2 separate regions of the Homo sapiens genome follow, and region 1 is linked to region 2. The links come from fine-mapping of genetic effects on gene expression. Tissue or cell type: lung. Region 2 holds a variant in brackets; the other region holds the start of a gene. All regions are shown on one strand. Distances are between the middles of the regions.

Region 1 (4,083 bases), 79 kb before region 2:
GATGTGACTGTGCACTGTTGCAACCTGGATGGGTTGGTGGAGGTGCTGGCCCTGCTCAGATCTCTGTCCCGCAGGTCACCCTGGTGTGTTTATCTGGGCCACCCTATCAGCCTCTTAGATAGTCTCCAGGCTCCCCAAGAGCAGCTCCATAAACCACCTAAAAAAAAAAATCCTTTCTGGAGAGAGGAGGTGTATCAGTCAGGGTTTAGTGCCTCCAGGGCTGTTTTTTGTTTTTTTTGTTTTTTGTTTGTTTGTTTGTTTGAGAGGTCTCACTCTGTCACCCACGCTGGAATGCAGTGGCACAATCTCAGCTCACTGCAGCCTCATCCTCCTGGGCTCAAGCAATTCTCCCACCTCAGCCTCCTGAGTAGCTGGGGCTACAGGTGTCCACCATCACACCAGGCTAGTTTTTGTATTTTTTGTAGAGATGGGTTGGGGGGGGGGGTTTGTCTCACTTTGTTGAGGCTGGTCTTGAACTCCTGAGCTCAAGTGATCCTCCTTGGCCAGCCAAAGTGCTGGGATTGCAGGCGTGAGCCACAGCGCCCGACCCTCTCCAGGTGTTTTGAGTAGGAGACATTGAGTGCAGGGAATTGGTGGTACAGCACAGGTGATGGAAGAGCCCAGGATGGGCAACCATAGCAACCGCCACAACCCCCAGGCCCAGAGGAACAAGGGGAGGAAGAGATTGCACCAGGCCCCAGAAGTTTGGGGTCCCTCAGGGAAATTGAGAAGCTCGGGGGGCCCACTCCCAGCACTTTGGGGGCTAAGGCGGGTACATCACTTGAGGTCAGGAGTTCGAGACCAGCCTGGGCCAATATGGTGAAACCCCATCTCTACTAAAAATACAAAAATCAGCTGGGTGTAGGGGCACACGCCTGTAATTCCAGCTACTCACAAGGCTGAGTCAGGAGAATTGCACTTTCTCATCATACTGTGTAATGATGCTGGTGTCTGCCATCTGAGAACGGCCCCCGCCATAGCCATACTCTCCCACCTCCTCCCTGCCCCTGCGCCTCGGGCCCTGCCCTCTCTTCGGCTCCTTTCCTGTCTCCCACTTCCAGCCACCCACCTGCATGAATCCACCTGTCTGTTCCCCACATCTGCACTTGGGCATCGTCACCTGGAGAAAGTTCTACCTCCTGGAAGCCTGAAGCCACTGCAGATTCACGCCTCCCCCCACCTTCCCAGCAATCCTTGCGGGGTGGGAGGTGTTTGTCATCCAGTCACTCATGCACCCATCCAGTCACAAGTATTGATCACTCAGTAGGTGCCCAATGCCATCCTCTGCATTTGGGAGAGGATGTACCTAAAGAGCAGTGGGTGGAGGGGGGTGCACAGGGAGGGCATGGAAAACCAGAAGGGAAGTGAAGGGACTGCATTCTCTGCAGGGATGGTCTCTTGTTCTGAGAGCTGAGTGGGAAGGAAGCCACCTGGGAGGCGCAGCAGGAAGAGCATTCAAACCAGAAGGAACCCAGGGGAGAGAATCTGGATATTTTCAAAAGTGGCCCCGTGGCTCCAGCCAGGTCGGTGGTAGCCAGTGCTTTGGAGTGTCGGCCCCACCACAGGCTCCCGCTGCAGCCCGGGATCCAGTGCCCAGCAGGATGGGGGCAGGTGGCTCTGGGCCCCACTACATGGTTGTGGCAGGGTCCCCCATGTAGTTCAGTGGGGATCACAATCTCCACCTCCCAGGACCCACTCAAGCTCCCATTTGCACAGCCCAAACTGGAGCAGGATGGGGACATGGGAGGTGGGCTCTGGCTGTAGCGTCCGGTGGTGGGAGGTGGGGTCCAGGTGGTGACGCTACTGTCCCTGCAGTGCTCTTTGATGAGCTGTAACAGCAGGCTTGGAGGTGGGGCTGGGGACGACCCAGGCAACCCTGAGGGGAGCTTAAGGGAGCCAGGCAACCCTGGCACTTTTCCAAGGCTTTGCATTAACTCAATAGTTCCGCCATGGCCCCGGGGGTAGTGCCATGTATTTCTGTTTTACCGTCGAGGAAACGGAGGAAACCGAGGCACAAAGAAATGGAGTTAATTCCTAAAGTCACAGGGCCAGGAGGTGGCTGAGTGGGGATTCGAACTCACACCCCAGAGGGCACACACAGGCAGGCCCCTGCACACACGCGCGCGCGCGCGCGCACACACACATACACACACACGTGTCCTGGAGGAGGCGGCCCGCAGGGCGGGACAGGGCGGGGCGGGGGCAGGTCCCGGCCGCCGGGAGGAAGTGGCCGGGCGGTCGCAGGGACTCCGGGGCGACCGCCGCGAGTCCGCAGTAGTTCGGGCCATGGAGGCGGAGCCGCCGCTCTACCCGATGGCGGGGGCTGCGGGGCCGCAGGGCGACGAGGACCTGCTCGGGGTCCCGGACGGGCCCGAGGCCCCGGTGAGCGGGGACCCGGAGTGCGAGGCGCGGGCGTCCCCTGTGGGCCAGGGTCCCCCCGGCGGGGGCGGGGCGGGCCGGGGGGCGGCGGGCACCGGGGGACACGGGTTCGGGGCGCGATCGCGGGTGCGAGCGGCGTGCGTGGCTCGCAGCTGGACGAGCTGGTGGGCGCGTACCCCAACTACAACGAGGAGGAGGAGGAGCGCCGCTACTACCGCCGCAAGCGCCTGGGCGTGCTCAAGAACGTGCTGGCTGCCAGCGCCGGGGGCATGCTCACCTACGGCGTCTACCTGGGTAGGTGCCGCTCGGGGACCCGGGGCCGCCCCGCCCGCTCCCAGCCCGGCCCGGGAAACAGAAACCGCGGGCCGCCGCCTCCCGCCCGCTCTCACTTCCCCTCCGCTGCCCTCGCAGCTGCAGCCACGGCCCCCCGCGGCGGGGGTGGGGTTGGGGGGTCAAGTAGCGCAGCGTCCCCGGGTCCCAGCCAGAGCCTCGGTGTGGGTGGGGGACGGGGGTCCGGGCTCCCGGACAGACCTGCCACCGTCAGAATTGGAGGCCGGCGGAGCAAGGCGGGTGGGGGTCTGGGCTTAGCTGGCCAAGTGGCCGCGGGCTGGCAGAAGGCGTGGCGCAGCCCGGGAACCCCGCTGTCCTGAGGGGCGCTGTCAGCGGGAATGCCTTCGGTGATTGGAGCTCCCTGCGAGGCCTGCATGCCGTCTTCTGCTCGGTGGCGCCCAAAGCTAGGCTGCTCCCTGCACGCCGCTCTCTGTCCTGTCCCCAGGCCTCCTGCAGATGCAGCTGATCCTGCACTACGACGAGACCTACCGCGAGGTGAAGTATGGCAACATGGGGCTGCCCGACATCGACAGCAAAATGCTGATGGGCATCAACGTGACTCCCATCGCCGCCCTGCTCTACACACCTGTGCTCATCAGGTGGGCGCGGCTGCTCCTGTGGGATGCTGCGGTACTCCCATTTCGGAGGGGTACAGAGGCCGGCGGGCCAGGAGGTGTCCATCTGCCGGGGTGTTTGTGGGGCGAGGGAACAAGGGAGAGGTTTTTTTCTACCCGGAAGCCTGAGAGTGAAGGGGGTGAAACTCGGATTTGGGGAAGGAAACAGGAACTTTGCCTCAGGGCACATTTGGTTTCCAGCAACAGATTCACACGGGCTGAGCTCCCTCCCAGCTTGCCTGGGCCTCACGTGGCACCCTCCTCGTGGCCTCCTTGGAGGCCTCCCAGAGCCACTGTGGCCTTCAGGGTTGGGGCTGTAGAGTTAGGGGTTTCTGATCGGTCAGCAAAGTCCAGGCACCCATGCCTGGCCCAGTCGCTGTGACTGGTGCTGAGGGGGTGTTTCTCACAGACAGGCATGGCTGGGCAGGTGCCCCAGAGCTCTCCCCCAGATCTGAGCCCTGGAGGTATGTGGTTCAGCCTCCCCATCACCGGTCCACAGTGCCCTCCCTGATGGGACCTGGAGACCAGTGGACAAATTAGGTGAATTTGAGCTCCCTCATCTTTAAAACAAACAAACAAACAAAACAACAAGAGAAAACTCCATTTAAACAAAAATTTGAAAATTTAAAACATCTCCCGTTGCACAGGCAGGATTAGAATAACTGAAATCATAAAAAAGAAACCCCATCTAAGCCCTCCAGGAAATCGGCTACCCATGCTGTCCCACCAGCATGCATGGATTACATTCACATCCTTGTCC
Region 2 (6,201 bases):
CACTTTTTTCTTTACTCATGAAAATGTTTTGTGCTTCGTACCTACAAGTACAGTTTGTGTAAATTCTGCAAAATTTGCCGCATAACTCTTCCTGTATTAGCATTTTTCCTTTGAGAGATTTCTCAAAACATCATCTTTGGACTATGAGGAATTGGAAATTTACTTAGAGTCAAAAGCAAGTACAGGAAAGTCAGTTCTTAGTCAAGAGTTAGGTTTTCAAAGACAGTGGATAAAATAAAAAATCTAGTACAGTCAAGATTATACGTGCAAATCCCCTCATCATTCATAAAGTTTAGCAGTCAGTCTTACCGTGGCTCACCAGGTCCAATCCATACTTCTTCCTCCACGATTGGAGCAGAGGGTGATTTTTTTTATGAGCAACTGATGAAGTCATTTAGAGACCATTTGCAGTAGGAGCCATGTGTACTAGAGACCAATCAATGTGCCCTCATGGCACCATTTCTTCCTCTCTCCCTCTTTGTTCTTGCCAAGTACCCATAGTTCATTTTCCATAGATTAAAAGAGCCCATGTTGGGCTCTATGTAGAATTGTTTGGGAAGTTGTTAAACTGTTTCTCACAGTGGCTAAAGCATTCTAATTCCTACCAGCAGTGTATGAAAGTTCCAGTTTCTCTGCATCCTCACCAACACTTGTTATTTTCTGTATTTTTTTTTTTTGAGACAAAGTCTTGTTCTGTCACCCAGGCAGGAGTGCAGTGGCACAATCTCAGCTCACTGCAACCTCTGCCTCCCAGATTCAAGTTACTCTCCTGCCTCAGCCTCCAGAGTAGCTGGTATTATAGTCACCTGCCACATGCTTGGCTAATTTTTGTATTTTTTAGTAGAGACAGGGTTCCACCATGTTGGCCAGGCTGGTCTCAAACTCCTGGCCTCAGGTGATCCACCTGCCTCGGTCTCCCAAAGTGCTGGGATTACAGGCATTAGCCACCACACCAGGCCAATTTTCTGTATCTTCAATTCTAGCCATCCTTATGGCTATGAAGTGGTATCACATTGTGGTTTTGATTTCTGTTTCCCTGATGATGAATTTCATTGAGCATCTTTTCATGTGCTTATTGGCCACTTGTATGTCTTCCTTGGAGATGTGCCATATTTTCATATTCAAAAATGAAAGCACAGGTCCACACAAAAATTTGTGCATGAATAATTACAATAGCATCACTCCTAATAACCCACAGAGGGAATTAATCCAAATGCCCATCACCAGATGAAGAGATACACCGGTTGTTGTCTACCCACATGGTGGAATATTATTTGATCACAAAAGGAAGGAAAGTACATACGCTACAGCGTGGATGAACCTTCAAAACAGATGAAAGATCACATTCTACATGATTTCATTCAGATGGAAATCTATAGAAATAGGAAGTCGATTAGTGGTTGCTTAGGGCTGCTAGGGGCATGAGAGGATAGGGGGTGTTAGCTAAAGGGTATGAGGTTTCTTTTTGAGGTCATGAAATGTTCTAAAATTGACTGGTAATGTTTGCGTATATCTCTGAATATATTAAAAACCATTGAAATGTAAAAAATGCGAAGAAAAAACAGCCCAAGTTGCAATTTTATTCAACACTTGATTGGCTTTAAAAATAGATTCCAGGCTGGGCACGGTGGCTCACACCTGAAATCCCAGTGCTTTGGGAGGCTGCGGTGGGAGGATTGCTTGAGGCCAGGAGTTCCAGGCCAGCCTTGGCAACATGGCAAGACCCTGTCTCTACAAAAAAATAAAAAATAAATATCAGCTGGGTGCAGTGGCTCACACCTGTAATCCCAGCACTTTGGGAGGCTGAGGCGGGCAGATCACCTGATATCAGTTCAAGACCAGCTTGGCCAACATGGTGAAACCCCTTCTCTACCAAAAATATAAAATTTAGCCTTTTGGTACTCTGAGCAGCACCATGGCGGTTGTTAAGAACAAGTGCCTTATGAAAGGTGGCAAAAAGGGAGTTAAGAAGAAAGTAATTGGTCCATTCTCTAAGAAAGATCAGTATGATGTGAAAGCACCTGCTATGTTCAATATAAGAAATATTGGAAAGACTTGGTCACCAGGACCCAAGGAACCCAAATTGCATCTGATGGTCTCAAGGGTCTTGTGTTTGAAATGAGTCTTGCAGATTTGCAGAATGATGAAGTTGCATTTAGAAAATTCAAGCTGATTACTGAAGATGTTCAGGGCAAAAATTGCCTGACTAACTTCTATGGCATGGGTCTTACCTGTGACAAAATATGTTCCAAGGTTGAAAAATGTTCAACAATGATCGAAGCTCATGTTGATGTCAAGACTACCGATGGTTACTTCTTTCTTATGTTTTGTGTTGGTTTTACTAAAAAACACAACAATCTGATACTGAAGACCTCTTATGCTTAGCACCAACAGTCTGCCAAATCCAGAAGAAGATGATGGAAATCATGACCTGAGAGGTGCAGACAAATGACTTGAAAGAAGTGGTTAATAAATTGATTCCAGACAACATTGGAAAAGATGTAGAAAAGGCTTGCCAATTTATCCTCTCCATGATGTCTTCATTAGAAAAATAAAAATGCTGGAGAACCCTGGGTTTGAAAGGCATGGAGCTTCGTGGTGATGGTAGTAGTTCTGGAAAACCCACTAGGGACGAGACACATGCTAAAGTTGAATGAGCTGATGGATATGAACCACCAGTCCAAGAATCTGTTTAAAGTTCAGGCTTAAAACAGTAGCAAATAAGAAGTCCTATTTGTGAAAAACAATCAAGAAACAACAATGAAAGAGCAAAATTAGCCTGGTGTGGTGGTGCATGCCTGTAATCCTAGCTACTCCGGAGGCTGAGGCATGAGAATTACTTGAACCCGAGAACAGATGTTGCAGTGAGCCAAGATTACACCATTGCACTCCAGCCTGGGCAACAGAGTGAGACTCTCTCCAAAAAGAAGGAAAAAAAAAGTATCTGGGCTGGTGGCATGCGCCTTTAGTCTCAGCTACTCTGAAGGCTGAGATGGGAGGATGGCTTGAGGCCAGGAGTAATTTGAGGCTGCAGTGAGCTATGATTGTGACACTGCACTCTAGCCTGGACTACAGAGCAAGACCCTGTCTCTTATACATACATACATGCATACATACATACATACATGCATACATACATACACACACACGCGCACATACATACATACCCAGGCTCTACCTCCGGTGATTCTGACTCAGTAGGGTGGAGTATCCCCTAGGGATCCTGCTATTCAGCCTGGTCTGGGATCCACTTTTCACTGGGAACTGAGACACTGGCTGTGAGCCTTTCTGTCCTGTGATGTAGAGGTCATGGCGATGCAGGTTCAAGCTTAAGAAGACCTGACTGTGCATTAGGTATTGTGCTGAACATCATCTCTTACTCTCACAGCAACATCCTTAGAAGGTTAATGATGTGTCCCCGCTCTACAGATGAGGAACTGAGCTTTCAGAGGAGTTTAGCTTGTTCAAAACTTATTCTTCGTATTGGAAACTTTGTAC[C/T]CTTTGAGCAGTGTCTCCTATCCCCTACCTTTCCTCCACCCCAGCCCCTGATAACCACTGTCCTACTCTCTATTTCTGTGAGTTCAACTTCTTTAGATTCCACATATAATAAAATCATGCAGTATCTGTCTTTCTGTGCCTGGCTTATTTCACTTAACACAATGTCTTTCAAGTTCATCTATGTTGTTGAAAATGACAGGATTTCTTTCTTTTTTAAGAGTTAATAGTATTCCGTTGTGTGTATATAGTACATTTTCTTTATCCTTTCATCCACTGATGGACACTTAGGTTGATTCTATATCTTGGGTATTGTGAATAGTGCTGCAGTGAACATAGGAATGTAGGGATCCCTTCGACATATTGATTTCGATTTTTTTTTGTCTATACCCAGAAGTTGGGTTGCTGGATTATGTGTTTTGAAATCTATAGCACAGCAGCGTGACTATAGTCAATAATAATGTATCTTTCAAAATAACTAAGAGACTACATTTCAAATGTCTCATCATAAAAATTGTCAGTAAATTAGTGGATGGACATGTTAATTAGTTTGATCTAATCATCCCACATTGTATACACATATCAAAACATCACATAAATGTGTACAATTATGATTTGTCAATTAAAATAACGTTAGTTAAAAAAATAAGTAACTTGTTCAAAGCCCCAGTTGGGATTGATGGAGCCGGGACATGCACCAAGGCTTTTGCTCTCAGGCACACAGAGTCCTTGGGCCACGAATGTTGAAGCCCTACCTGAGATTTCTACTGAGATCAGTGTAGGGATTCAATGTCTCAGAATCATCCCATCCTCCAGGGCCCACAAGTCCATGACCTTTGCCTCTACCCCCGACCCTGCTGACCTGAAATGTGGCCCCTGCTTTCATTTCCGGGAGCATACAACACTTACACCAAGCATTGATGGGTTTTATTGACTTCATTTGAGACGTGGAGCCATGGAGAGGGTCCCATGATCCTTGCTTGGTGTTGGCCAATTCACTGAATTCTCTCTTTGACTTCACCCTTCCCTTTTCTACTCACCTCCTCTGTCATGGATTGCTCGGGGAATTCTGAGCCCTAGTTCCTTTGTTTTGCAGATAACCTTCACTCGTCTCTGCAACGAATCCCAAAAGTATGTAGTTGAGGTGACTGCAAGGTGCTTGACACGCAAGAGACTCCACAAATGGGATTCGGCCTCTGGAAAGTGGTGGTACTTCCAGATTTATGTGGATGTTACTTTGTTTTTCCCTATAAAATATATTCTTTAAACTATCAAGCTCTTGGCTCCTGGCTGCAGTCCTTTGCTGGTGGCAGTGGGCTGGGTACTGTCACCGGGGAGAAATGCTGCCCACTTAGAGAAAGAGAAACTGGTTCTCTTTAAGAGGCAGACGGAGGTTTCCAGTGCCAGTTTGTTTGGAGGCAAAATGGCTGTTGTATTAAAATTGCCCAAACTTGGGCTGGTGCCTTGTGTGTTTAGAGCTCAAAGCCATGATTGTTTTCATTTTTTTTTTTTTTTTTTTTTTTTTTTGGTGGTCGGTTTTCCATCCTTTTGCTTGGTAGGTTTCTGCTAATAGCTTCGACCTCAAGAGTCCCATTATACAGACACTAATAGCACCTACTATGTGTCAGTCTGTAGTGCCTACTATGTGCCAGGCATTGGAGATAATATAATGATGAACAAGATAAACATGGCACTTGGAAAAGAGAGTCTAGTTCCCACTCTCAGCCCACCCCAAAGAGAGGCCAGAATTGGGCTTCCAAAGATCTCAGATGCCCTTGCATCATCTCCATGAAGAGGGTGGGTGAAGCTTTGGTGTCTGAAGAGAATTTGGCTGGACAATCCCCAAGGGTTGGAATGATGGGAAGGAGCTGCCATCTGTGTTTAAGGTGAGAAGAGGGGAGTGGCTGGATATCAGAGGAAGCCAAGATGAAGAGAAGGTTTTTGTGAGTTCCTATGCATAGTGGAGACCTGTTACAGTGAGGGTCCCTGGGGCTGAGCCTGTGGGTCAGTGGAATGATGCTGTGAGGAGGGTCTTGTTATAGCAGATGGCCCAAAAAAGGCTGATGGATCATGAGCAGCTGGAAGAATGGAGAGTTCGGGGGAAGTAGTTCCTACCTGGCTTTCCAACAGTGTGTAAGCCCAGAATTCTTACATAAGCCCATGGAGAAGGGAAAGCAATGCTGGTAACGACAAGATTGAATTCTCCACCTGCCAGGCATCCAGGGACTCAGAGCAGATTTAAGTGAAGTTACAGAAATAGGAATGTGACATTTCCTACATCCGGATGTGCTGGAGCAAAATGTATTCCCTCTCTGGTTTGTGGGGAAGGAGAATGCTAACAGACAAGACTCCAGGTTTTCGCTCTTAAACCTGATGCCTAGAAATGCATTTTCTACTGGATGCAGACAGAAGCTCCATATAGACATATCCATTGCTGCATCGCTCATGCCTTGTGTTCTCCCTAATTTTCCCTTTTTAAACCACAGAGGAAGAAAATTCCAGCATCACTTCTGGCCTCTCAAGAGTGAGTTAGGTGGCCAGGTGGGGTTATTCTTGCCTGTAATCTCATAATGAAGGGGTGGCCTGCCCCTCCACACCTGTGGGTATTTCTAGTCAGGTGGGATGAGAGACAAAAAAGAAATAAGACACAAAGTATAGAGAAACAACAGTGAGCCCAGGGGACCGGCGCTCAGCATACCAAGGACC

The links. PIP is the estimated chance that this variant, and not a neighbour inherited with it, causes the effect.
Region 1: UNC93B1 starts here. The variant in region 2 is the best candidate, but not a certain one, in a credible set for the expression of UNC93B1 in lung (TOPMed, PIP 0.61).

The regions. Positions count from the first base shown.
Region 1 is chr11:68,002,247-68,006,329 of GRCh38, reverse strand. UNC93B1 (unc-93B1 regulator of TLR signaling) reads left to right here and starts at 2,233. Exons shown (of 11, transcript NM_030930.4): 1 at 2,233-2,382; 2 at 2,532-2,673; 3 at 3,155-3,308. The coding sequence starts at 2,287. RefSeq lists enhancers at 1,190-1,732, 1,733-2,276, 3,181-3,230, 3,331-3,380, 3,481-3,680 and silencers at 2,111-2,410, 2,471-2,880.
Region 2 is chr11:67,922,146-67,928,346 of GRCh38, reverse strand. The region is part of intron 3 of LOC112268076 (translation initiation factor IF-2-like); the gene reads left to right. It also overlaps the pseudogene RPS3AP40. Among named protein-coding and RNA genes, the nearest start is that of LINC02754, 41 kb to the right of the region's middle. The variant C/T (reference allele first, on the strand shown) is at 3,499.